3 linked regions of the Homo sapiens genome follow. The protein of the gene in region 3 purifies or fractionates together with the protein of the main gene of each other region. This does not show direct contact. Each region holds a gene or a part of one and is shown on either strand. Other genes may lie near its edges. The genes, in order: SORL1, SLC25A13 and SP7.

Region 1 (3,649 bases), on a different chromosome or scaffold from region 3:
AGAGTGAGACCTTGTCTCCAAAAAGAAAAAAACTTAGCCACAAAATTGCTGATATGCCTCATATTTTAATGACGATGACCTCCTCCTAAGTACCAAGTACTAGGAAATATCTAGAGGAGGAACGTAGAGGTAGAAACTAGACAAAAAATGCAAGAGGGCAATGGTGGAGAGAATCTTAAATTAACTTAAGGTACAAGAACAGTCTCTGATGCAGTAAGAAGAACAGATGTTTGACAACTCTGGCAAGACTATAAAGCTTAGCCACCATACTTCTGTACATGTGAGGCACACATATGTTCCCACATTCCTGAGAATACTCAGAAAGACCCTCACAAACCCCGACCTGAGGTCTTACCCATGCCATAAAAATTAACTGAAACACTTACATCCCTCTGGGGTCCTCAGGGTCACAAAGTCATTGGTGTTGTGTGCCTTGCTGAGACACTGAACCTGTACTTTAACCTGATACGTGGTATCTGGTTTCAAGACTTTTAATACAGTGTTTGTCTTATTGCTGTGGGTCTCCAGAGTCTTCCATATGCTCTCTCCAACCACCCTGGCCCAAAAAAAAATAAAGATATTGTCACACTGGAGCAGCATGGGGGGCTGAGATGTCTGACTCCGTTAATAGCATGGTGCATGCCACTAGAGAGTTTACAGAACATCCTGGGGCAATGAAGACATCATTTTCATCTCCCATGACAAAGATGGGACCTACCTGTAGTAGACATTATATACACAAGAAGCAGAGGGCATTTTTTTGGGCCTCATCCAGGTCAAAGTCACATCCCCAGAGAAGTCAGCTGTCCACTGAAGATTCTGTACTTTGTACACAGTCAACTCATCTAGAGAGATAAAGGAGAAAAAGACAAACAAAGTTACATCTTGGCTGGGCGTGGTGGCTCACGCCTGTAATCCTAGCACTTTGGGAGGCCGAGGCGGGCAAATTGCCTGAGCTCAGGAGTTCGAGACTGGCCTGGGCAATGTGGCTAAACCCCGTCTCTACTAAAAATACAAAAAAAAAAAAGTTACATCTTACAAATCCTTAGATTTCAAAGGACTCCTGCTTTTAAACAGAACTACCATGATCTAGATTATCAGGAGGCCATAATCATTATCTGAAAAGAAATCTCAGAAAATGTAGTTGAAACCTCCCTATACAATCCCTCCTAGGGTCTCCTACTTTTCCGGTCGTGATATTTTCCCTCGAATTTCATCTTCCTCCTGCCTATGACAATTTAAGCCTATTTCTCCATAGAGAATGCTACAAGTCCAAGGACCATGTCATAGGGTCCATTACTAGACACTCCAGAGATAAGAACTGAGTTAATCCCACCAGCAGATTGAGACTGTGAGAGCCATGGTGTATGGGCATGAGGTGGGAAGTCCATAAAAAAAAAAAAATCCAAGACTAGCATTTCACTAACAGGGAGGAGACAGCTGCATGTTGTATCAGAGTCTGGCCAAGGCTCACCTCACTTGGGGCTCCAAAACTAGGCACAAATCTGTTTTATCCTTAGATTGAGCAACAGTTCAAAAGGGTCCTAGCTCAAGGTCTACACAGGAGGGGCCCTGGGGTAAGCGAGCCTCCCAGCCCAGCCCAGCCCAGCCCAGCCCGTGGACCGGCACTCACCACTGCAGGCCTTTTCATCGCTCTCGTCCGAGCAGTCCAGGAAGCCGTCGCAGCGCTCCGAGAGCACAATGCAGGCCTCCCCGTCCTCGCACTGGAACTCCCTGCTCATGCAAGTCAAGGTGCTGTGTGTGGCTGAAACACAGAGAGGCTTCTTAAGTCCACGGGGAGGGGCCGTATGGTACTAAAGGCTGGGCCCAAGTTTATTCCCATTTAGGCAAAGTACTAATTGGCTTCTGCTTCAAAACACACCTCTGGAATGACCAGTGGTGGAATCTATACCGGCACTAAGGTGCCATCTCATCTAACATTAACAACTGGAATCTGCATTCGGGAAGAGTGAGCACTTTGGAGTCAAACAAACTAGAGTTTAAATCCTAGATCTGCATGAGCTTGAGCAAACAGCTTAATATCACCTGAGTTCAGTTGCCCTATAAAAAATGGAAGTAACAATTCCATCACTATCATGTCTGCAAGGATCTAATGAGATCACACACCTGGAACACTGCCTGGCTCCTGGCCGGCATCAACAAACTGTAGCTATTACTCTATAGTACTATTAATTATTCTGCTACTATTATTAGTTTGCAATCTAGAAAGAGGAGCTGATTTCTGGTTTGAGTAACAGAAATAACAATGAGATGAATCCCAACAATATTAAGAGGCATGCATACTTTATGTAGTATTTAAAGTTGTTTGGCTTTTCAAAGTACTTGAACAGAAAATGAAATAATGCAAATAATGAGCACTGGTAAGTTAAGGGTTATGCAACTGTATGTCTAGGCTATTGACCAAAATGTGATGTGCTCTCCAGTTCTGAAAGTAGATTAAAACTGCACGGGAGGCTCCAAAAAGAAAGCAATGACCGTATAATTGCAAATGCTCCTGAAAAGAGAAAAGGTGAGAATGGCTGTAGACAGCAAATCTGCTATGCAGGCTGTGTACCTGGGTGGTACAAATCTGCTATGTAGCTGGTTGAGCCCAGGAACAGTAACTTGAGGCCTTCCTTATACAGATTCACACCTGCCTGCCCAGTCCTGGACAAGGAAGGGCTACATCAGAAATCCAATCCCACCAGTGATGAGGGTCTAAAATCAATCTTGCTCCTCCAAGTCAAAGACGTCCACATCCTAATCCCTGGAACCTGTAATATGTTACCTTATGTAACAAAGCAACTTTGCAGGTGTGATTAGATTAAGGACCCATAGGTAGGAGAGTTCAGCCTGGATTATCCAGGTGGGCTCTGTCTAATGACATGGGTCCTTAAAAGCAGAGACCCTTTTCTGGTTGTGGTGAGAGACAGAGAGAATACAGAAGACAGGTGAGAGACATGCAACATCACTGGCTTTGAAAATGGGGAAATTATAACAGACAAAAGGAGGCTGAACATGAGTGGCTCCATTCTGCTCCCCGCACCCTGCCCCCTGCCCATGGTGACATCTTGTAGGTTAACGGCCTCTGCCTATCTCTGCACGTAGGCCAAGCTAACTATGGAAGGAATTTTGTTTATAGTTTAATTTTAAAGCAAGGATGATAATAGTCCCTTCCTGAAACTAAGCCCTGAGGAAATAAAGAGAGTGTACACACAAGTAACAAAGTTATGTTAAAGGTGATATGAGCATTGTGACCTGAGCAAGGAAGCTTCATACGCCCCACTTCAGACCCAGGCATGTGGTCATGGGTCACCTCTTGACCTCGACCCCCTCCCTCTTCTCCTTCCTCCTAACATAAACAACCACACTTTGAGATATAGGTAGAGAAACTGGATAATGTTCCCATGAGAGCAACCAGGATGGTCAAGAGGAATGGATAAAGGATCCAGGGATATTTTCCTAGAGGTGAAAAGATACAAGGATGGGGGAGGTGGTGAGAAGACATGCAGACCACTCTGACAAGTGTTCTCCACTGATGAGTTTTCATGAGAAAGAAGAATTAAGACTTCTTTGCACGAGTCTCTAGGATGGAGGTACAGACTTCAGTTCACTACTTATTCAAAAACAATCCTGATAAAAAATTGTC
Region 2 (3,649 bases), on a different chromosome or scaffold from region 3:
TTTATATGAGCCAAGGGGGTAAGTTGGCTTTTTTTTTTTTTTTTTTGGAATTAGCTTAATAAAAGGAGGTTAGGAGGAGGGCAGCAATCAGGAGAAAAAGAAGCCAAACTGAAGGCTATACTGAAATATGAGAAATGAAAAAAGGGATGTTTTTAAATTTTATAATGTAAATTGTAATAAATTGGTATATTTGTTGCTTGTGTTTGTTTTTCCCCTACAGACGTATGACCTTAGCAGACATTGAACGGATTGCTCCTCTGGAAGAGGGAACTCTGCCCTTTAACTTGGCTGAGGCCCAGAGGCAGGTGAGCAAAGAGGAGCAAACTTGCATTCTGGGGTTTCCTTAGCAGGATACCCCAACCCTGTTCCACTTGCAGTTGCCTTTGCGGCATTGGTATCTGACTTAACCATTTTTCTGTTTTGCACCAAAACTCTCGATAAATTTTAAAGGCTGTAAAGAGAAATTGCTTAGAAATGGTGTGATAAACAGGTATTTGGCATTTGCTCATTTCTTGCTAAGGTGGAGTGATTTCCTAACTGCACCAGAAGCCTAATGCTCCGAAAACATGAAGGAGGTCTTTTCTCCTTTCTTGAAGTCTCATGTTGAGAGATGTAGCGAAAGAATCCCGTGTTGGTGTCACTGTGCCTGTCGGCAGCTGCACGTTGCTAAATGAAAGCCGTCTTTGCTCTGTGGAGCAGCCCTTCATCAGCGCATCGTCTAACTGCCATGCCTTCCGTTTTTCTGAATATCAAAATGAGATAATTTTGTTTAGTCTGGAGTTACAGTTTAAAGGCTTTCAGACCTATTTTCTCTGTGAAAGGATTCATAAGTTATATGGAAACAATTTTAGGAATGCTAAATTTTATTTTATGGTTAACAGAAACCAATCTCTTGAAGTTGTGGGAGTCAGAAACTTAAGACATGGAACTTTCTCCTTTAACTCTTACCCAGCTTTCTGTAGATCAGGATTAGAGAAGAAAAGCCTTCATAGCATGTGTTAGTAAAATAAATGGTGTTTGTAAAATAAATCCACTCACAGGCGAGTGTCGTTTTTAGAAAAATTTCTCCTTTTAGGCAGAGCCATCTCTGAATCCTGTGAGACTTCGCAGTTTCTGGCATGGAGCTCTGGGTTTGTACAGAGACGCCAGTGTGACCACAATGGGTTGCTGCAGGCTACACTTTTAGGACTGTCAGACCTTGAGCCAGGGCCCCCTTCTTTTAGCTCTTTCCCACCCAAATGCAGCGGTGAGTTTTGTGTGCAGCATGCAAGTCAAAGTAGTGGGTGTGTGCTCAGTAAATTCTAACGAGCACCTCTGGAAAACCAGCTGGCCTTGCTTAAAAGAGGAAGCCGATTTCTCTGAGTGCAGGAGAAATAACTATAATCACGTGTAGAGGTGGAAGCAACACTGCTCTCCCTTCCCTTTGATTTTTAACACTGCTTAGGAGATGATTATCTCTTCGTCTGTATGCCACCAGCTATTGTAGAAATTTGGGGATTAAGAGAAGCAGAGAAGTTTTTTTTAGATCCCTCCTACTCTTCAGCTGGCAGCGGCTTCCCACAATTTTTCCTTTAAGCTCTTTGCAGCTTTTGAGAGTTTATGATGGGTGCTTGTTGATACTGGCCATGAAAGGGTTAGACCAGATTGATGAGATTTATAGCAGGAAATGATTCGCTGCCGCTTAGAGGTTTAGAGCAATTCACAATGGCCTTACCTGGAATAGGCTTTTTACTGCATGAACCCTAGTGGGCCCGACAAATTCAAGCAAGGGAGGTCGTCCACCTGTGGGCACAGCGCTGCCTGTCCAGCACTGTGCAGCACTTGTAGCATTTATCCTGGACAGAGGAGTGAAGGAGCAGAGTTTTGTCTCATTTCAAGAACATGCTACAGTTCTGGCTTTGGAAAAGTTAAATAAAAGTCTAGGATTTCATTTGTCTTTTAGGAGAGGAATTAATGGTGGTGGTAGGTCCCTCCTCCCCCCACCCTCTATAATTTTCAGAGTATTTTCACTCATTATTTTGATGCCAGAACATTTCTAAGTATTGCATATTTATATCCCTGTAAATAAAATATTGCTTCTCTTTTGGATGCATCTGTCAAAATGAAGGTACTATTGATTTCCATCTATATAGGGCTACAGTTGGAAACAACTCATAGAATTTGCAAAAGAAATGTTTTGTATCTTAAAGAGGCATATTTCTATGTAAAGCTATTTTCAGTTAAGTGACTTTGAAGGAGATTCCAAATGATCTCATTGTATTAGAATTGTGTTACATTGACAGCAACTAAAATTCAGTGGGTTGATAGCTGGGGTTGCTGATTATTTTCATTGTTCACTGATTTTAATTATCATGGATTCTGAAAAACAAATTTTATTGAATGTATGTATTCATTCAACAGGTATTTATTAAGCACTGACTATATGTCACCCTCATTTGACAACTCTCTGTGACATAAAATTACTGTTTTATTTATGCAGACAGAGAAGTGCAGCACTCTGAAATGTTCTGGCATCAAAAACACTGTGAGGATAATAGGTCAAAAGAACCAGAAAACAATGACTGACTGACCTGAAGTATGAATTTAGAAAAGATGGACAAAAAAAGAGAAAAAGTAACGATCAACTGTAATACAGCCACCTAGTTTTAGCTACTGTAAATGTTTTGAGTATCTCTGGGTGGTAGGGAGGCAAAATATTAGTATTAATTTTATATGCATATATATGTAAACCTCTTACAAGCATTTTTAATAAAAAGTGACATCATTTTGTATATAGTCTTAAAAATTGTTTTTAAAAAAATTACCAGGAAATAGGTCAAACATTTAAATAGGTACAAAGAATCATATGACAAATACCTATCTACTTACCATGCTCTTTTTAGCCTATGTTTTCTTTTATAATTCCTTGTGAACATTTAATATCAAATATTCTTTTACAGTATCATTTTGAATGATAGGGTTTTGTTTTAAAGTTATTATTTTTAAAGGCTATAGTCCTCCGTTATTGGACATTTAGAATATTTCCCAAATTTTTGTTCTTTTTGTTTAAAGAGCAAAAATTTGGGAAATAATCGAAATTTCCAATAAGTACTACAAATGTTTTTTAAGTGCTACATTCTTGTAGCTTGTTACATGCATGATTATCTTCTATCCTAACTTTTTTCTTTTTGAGACGGAGTTTCACTCTTCTTGCCCAGGCTGGAGTGCAGTGGCGCGATCTTGGCTCACTGCAGCCTCCGCCTCCCAGGTTCAAGTGATTCTCCTGCCTCAGCCTCCCAAGTAGCTGAGATTACAGGCATGCGCCACCACGTCCGGCTAATTTTTTATTTTTAGAAGAGACGGGGTTTCTCCATGGTGGTCAGGCTGGTCTCGAACTCCTGACCTCAAGTGATCCACCCACCTCGGCCTCCCAAAGTGCTGGGATTACAGGTGTGAGCCACTGCACCCAGCCTATTCTAACTTCAGAGGTTATGTACATTTTAAGGGTTTGGGTGTATATTACTAAACATCTCTCTATTTATGCTTGCTTTAATGGCAAATTTCAGAAGGCTTGTTATCAACTTTTGCCAGGCTGGGTATTGCCACTTAAAACAAAAACAAAAATACATACAAACCAAAAACCTGCCAATTTGATTGATGAAAAATGATG
Region 3 (3,749 bases):
CTCTTTGTCTATCAGCCACCTGGTTCCCAAACCCTTCCCCTAAACCTTGGGTTCCCAGAGTTCCTTGAGGTAAATCAAATCATGGGGCTAGAATCCAGAACTCCTGGGCCCTACCCTGAAATTGGTGCCTACCTGCTGGCGAAACTGCTGTGCAACCCTCCGTGGACCTCCATCTGCTCCTGCCACCTCCCAGCTTTTTCTTTGGAGATCTGGGAGAGCAAAAGGAGCAAGGAATTGGGCACTCCGAGAAAGTGAGGGGATGGTGTTGCAGAGTGAGGAGAGTGGAAAGGATGGGGCTTTATTCCCCTGACAGGGAGAGCTGGGAGGGGGAGAAGTGTGTGTTAAGGAATAACCTGTAAAACAACCCCAGCGGGCTAAGCCCCCCTGTGGGAGAGCTGCCGGTGTCACCACTTAGCTGCCCAGTCCTCTCTCCCATAAATACCTCAGGGCCCATGGCCCAGGTTTCAGGTAATAGACTTTTTGGGTTTCCCTCCTAACCTGGCTGCCCTTCCTTCTCTTACTTCCTATTTTGTTGGGAAGTCCTTATTAAGTTCTAACTTCAGTTCTTTCTGTGGAAGAGGGAATTGATGCATGGCAATGAGAAAGGGAACCAGGAGTTCCCAGGAAAGTCAGATCACTCTGGAGAACTGTCCACCAAAGGATGGAGATTAAACCCATGGTCTCTAAGAGATGGTAACTTGGTTACCCAGGGATGGTAACTGACAAGGAATATGGAGGTTAGGGCATTTCTTTTTGGGGGAAATAATCCAAAGAGGTTAGGTGTCGGCATGAATGAGTTGACCCAATGACCTTCTACCGCCACCCTCACTCCTGCTTGTCTTAAATTTTCTCTTCATCAGAAGATCCAGGTTCTGCCCCACAAAGTGAGGTAGGCCTAGGTATCACCTCCAAACAGTGAAACTGAGGCACTGGGAGGAAGACTGAGGGACCCCCAAGCCAATACCAAGCCTTCCCCAACTCTTCAACCCTTCCTCCAGGCCTTGCTCTGGAACCAACCTCAGTGACACTAAAAGTTTAGGCAGCAGAAACCTCCACCTCAGAACCTTCCATGCCTCTTCCCACAACATACACACACACACACACACACGGGCACGTACACACACACAGGGGCACATACACACTGCTCTCCTGATCTAGAGGCAGGTGGGTGACTGGGGAAGCAAGCCTCTCCATGGTCAGCTGGGGCGGGTGTGGTGCGTGTGCCTCCAGTGCGTCACTGTGTGCATTTGTGTGTGTCCGTCTGTGTTCATTCATGATAGTGGCTGTACCCATGTGAGTGGTACTGTGTGTACGTGTGCATGCATCACCCCTGTGTTTGGCCATGAGTGTGTATGTCAGTGCGTTCCAGTCTCTCTGTGTGAGTGTCGTCCCCAACCCCCCATCCCCCCCCTGGATCTCTAATTAGTGGTTTGGGGTTTGTTCCTTTTCCCTCCTGTTCCTTCCCTCAGCAGCGGCGGGCGGCAGCAGCCTAGGCAGCAGCAGTAGCAGAAGCAGCAGCCGCCGAGCAGCAGCAAGGACTCTGGAGTCAGAGTAGGACTGTAGGACCGGAGCCTGAGTGGAACAGGAGTGGAGCTGGCCTGGGAGAGAGCGGATCCCTCCCAGCACCCTCAGGCCACCCGTTGCCTGCACTCTCCCTGCCAGACCTCCAGAGAGGAGAGACTCGGGACAGCCAGCCCCAGGTTCCCCCAGGTACATGACACTGGGGAGCTCTGGGAGGGGTGCCCACAGATGCCTATGGGACTGCTGCCGCGTGTAGGACACCGGGGTCCACCATCCCTTTAACCTCTCCCCTCAGCAGCCCCCCGAGGAAGCCCTGACAACTTGCCCATGCTGCTCTCCCCTCTTCCTGCTTCCCACCCCTTCCATGGGCGCCCCTTTTTCTCCTCTCCCTCCCTGATCCCTTCTTTGGGGAGCTCAGCAAATGGAGCAGGAAATTTGGACCCTCTGCCTCCCTCTCTCGCCCTCCTCATTGGATCTGGAGCCTTCTCCGCTGGGAAAGCTGTAATTAGAGGGTGGATCCCTACAGACAGAGAGCAGCCCCCCACCCCGGTCCCTTCTAACTTTAGATCTCTTCTCTCCCATTCTCCCATTCTCCCTCCCTCTCCCTTTTCTCTCTCTACCCCCCCCACCCCCCGGCTCAGCTCTCTCCATCTGCCTGGCTCCTTGGGACCCGTTCCCCAGCCTCAGGATGGCGTCCTCCCTGCTTGAGGTAACTGTCCCCTCTTCCCCCCAGGAAACCAGCCACAACCTTAATGGTCCTAGTCCTTGCCCACCCACCTCCTCCAACTCACATAGATAGTAGCTGTGGTGCTTGTCAATTCCAGGGGTCCTTCTGATGAGGAGAGAGGAGTGGGGTCCAAGAAAGGGGAAGCAGAGGGCAGGAGAAAAGGGAGGGAAGAATAGGGCCAGGGGTCAGAGGGCAGTGGAAAGAGGGTGAGAGGGGATTAGGTCAGAAGAAGGCATGGACCCCTACCTAAGGTCAGCTAAGCACACTGACTGTGAGGAGTGGAAAAGCGATGGAGAAAGGAGGGGGAGGGGGGCGAGGGGGAGTGAGGAGAGAGGGGTGGGAAATACATAAGCTGGCAGAAGAGATAGAAGGCAGAGAGGACTGGCTGAGTGGGCACAGAGCAGCAACTGGGTATAGCTCTTTAGGGGTCCCGTCTCCTGGGACTCGTAGCCCAGACAGGATCTTGCCTGGTTTTGTGGGGAGGGGGCTGGGCCCGTGAGCTGGTGTGTGGAGGAGAGGAGGTAGGCTATGAGAGAAAGGAGGAGGCCAGCCTGTGCCTGTGGGGGAGCTGACCAGGGGAACTGAGCCCAGGCCTGTGAGGGAACCAAGGAGGAGGGACGGGGTCTGAGGCCGCTTGCCCGGCTTACAAATATTTAGCTTTCAGCCAAAGACAAACTCAGCTCTATTTTGGGAGTGGGAGGCTCCAGGGCGGACTGGGCCACTTCCCCTCCGGGCTGGGACCCCAGCATCCCTTGCCTCTGGTGCTGGGGACAAAGGGAATTGGGGTACCACTGGGGTCAGGGTTTGGGGTCTTGAGAAATTTCTGACTCTACTCTGGCTTCTGGGGGACCCAAGGCACAGAGTTGGGAAGGCAGGGCTCACAGCCACTCAGGGCCAGATTCCTCCCTGCTTCTGGGTCTCTGACACTGTTCCTCTGTCACCATCTCTGTCCTGCTTTCTGGGTCTCTCTGCAGGAATTTAGGGCCAGAGGGCCCTCCCTGAAAGTCAGTCCCCTTCAGTAGCCTTGACTCTTCCCTATTCTTGGGTCCCACATCTCTCTTCCCAGTGCCCTAGCTCAGGCCCAGGGGTGCTGGGCCAAACAGGAAGCCAACTCACTCAACCTGTGGGAGAGGTGTGTGTTTGTGAGATGGGGCAGGAGTCTTTTAACACCTGTGTTCATTGGCCTGAGTGTAATCGTTAGGGTGCAGTCGAGGGTGCCACAGGCCCTGAGAGTGTGTGTGTGTGTGTGTGTGTGTGTGTGTGTGTGTGTGTGTGTAAGTTGGGCCATCTGAGTGCTGTGAGTCCAAGTGATAAATGGTGTGTGCACAAGGCTGTGAGATAGTGAATTTGTGGCTGAGTTTGGGGGAATAGCATGCAAGCCAACCAGATGGACACCACGTCCCTTGTCACACTCTGTATCCAGCCAGGGGTCTACCCGTAGCTGCAATGGGAGCAGACTGTCATCCTGCCACCTCCCCAACAGACTCTATTTTGAGCCATC

Evidence for each region.
Region 1: the proteins of SP7 (region 3) and SORL1 purify together in Homo sapiens (affinity purification with mass spectrometry; 2 studies listed by BioGRID and IntAct, with this or other methods). This does not show direct contact.
Region 2: the proteins of SP7 (region 3) and SLC25A13 purify together in Homo sapiens (affinity purification with mass spectrometry; one large-scale study listed by BioGRID and IntAct). This does not show direct contact.

The regions. Positions count from the first base shown.
Region 1 is NC_000011.10:121,602,309-121,605,957, reverse strand, and holds part of SORL1 (sortilin-related receptor preproprotein), read right to left. Parts: intron 1,766-3,649; coding exon 1,634-1,765; intron 846-1,633; coding exon 719-845; intron 557-718; coding exon 387-556; intron 1-386. UniProt on the Homo sapiens protein: Sorting receptor that directs several proteins to their correct location within the cell. Along with AP-1 complex, involved Golgi apparatus - endosome sorting.
Region 2 is NC_000007.14:96,185,950-96,189,598, reverse strand, and holds part of SLC25A13 (electrogenic aspartate/glutamate antiporter SLC25A13, mitochondrial), read left to right. Parts: coding exon 1-18; intron 19-220; coding exon 221-305; intron 306-3,649. UniProt on the Homo sapiens protein: Mitochondrial electrogenic aspartate/glutamate antiporter that favors efflux of aspartate and entry of glutamate and proton within the mitochondria as part of the malate-aspartate shuttle.
Region 3 is NC_000012.12:53,334,107-53,337,855, reverse strand, and holds the start of SP7 (transcription factor Sp7), read left to right. Parts: upstream 1-1,501; 5' UTR 1,502-1,710; intron 1,711-2,079; exon of another isoform or gene 2,080-2,162; 5' UTR 2,163-2,209; coding exon 2,210-2,230; intron 2,231-3,749. UniProt on the Homo sapiens protein: Transcriptional activator essential for osteoblast differentiation. Binds to SP1 and EKLF consensus sequences and to other G/C-rich sequences.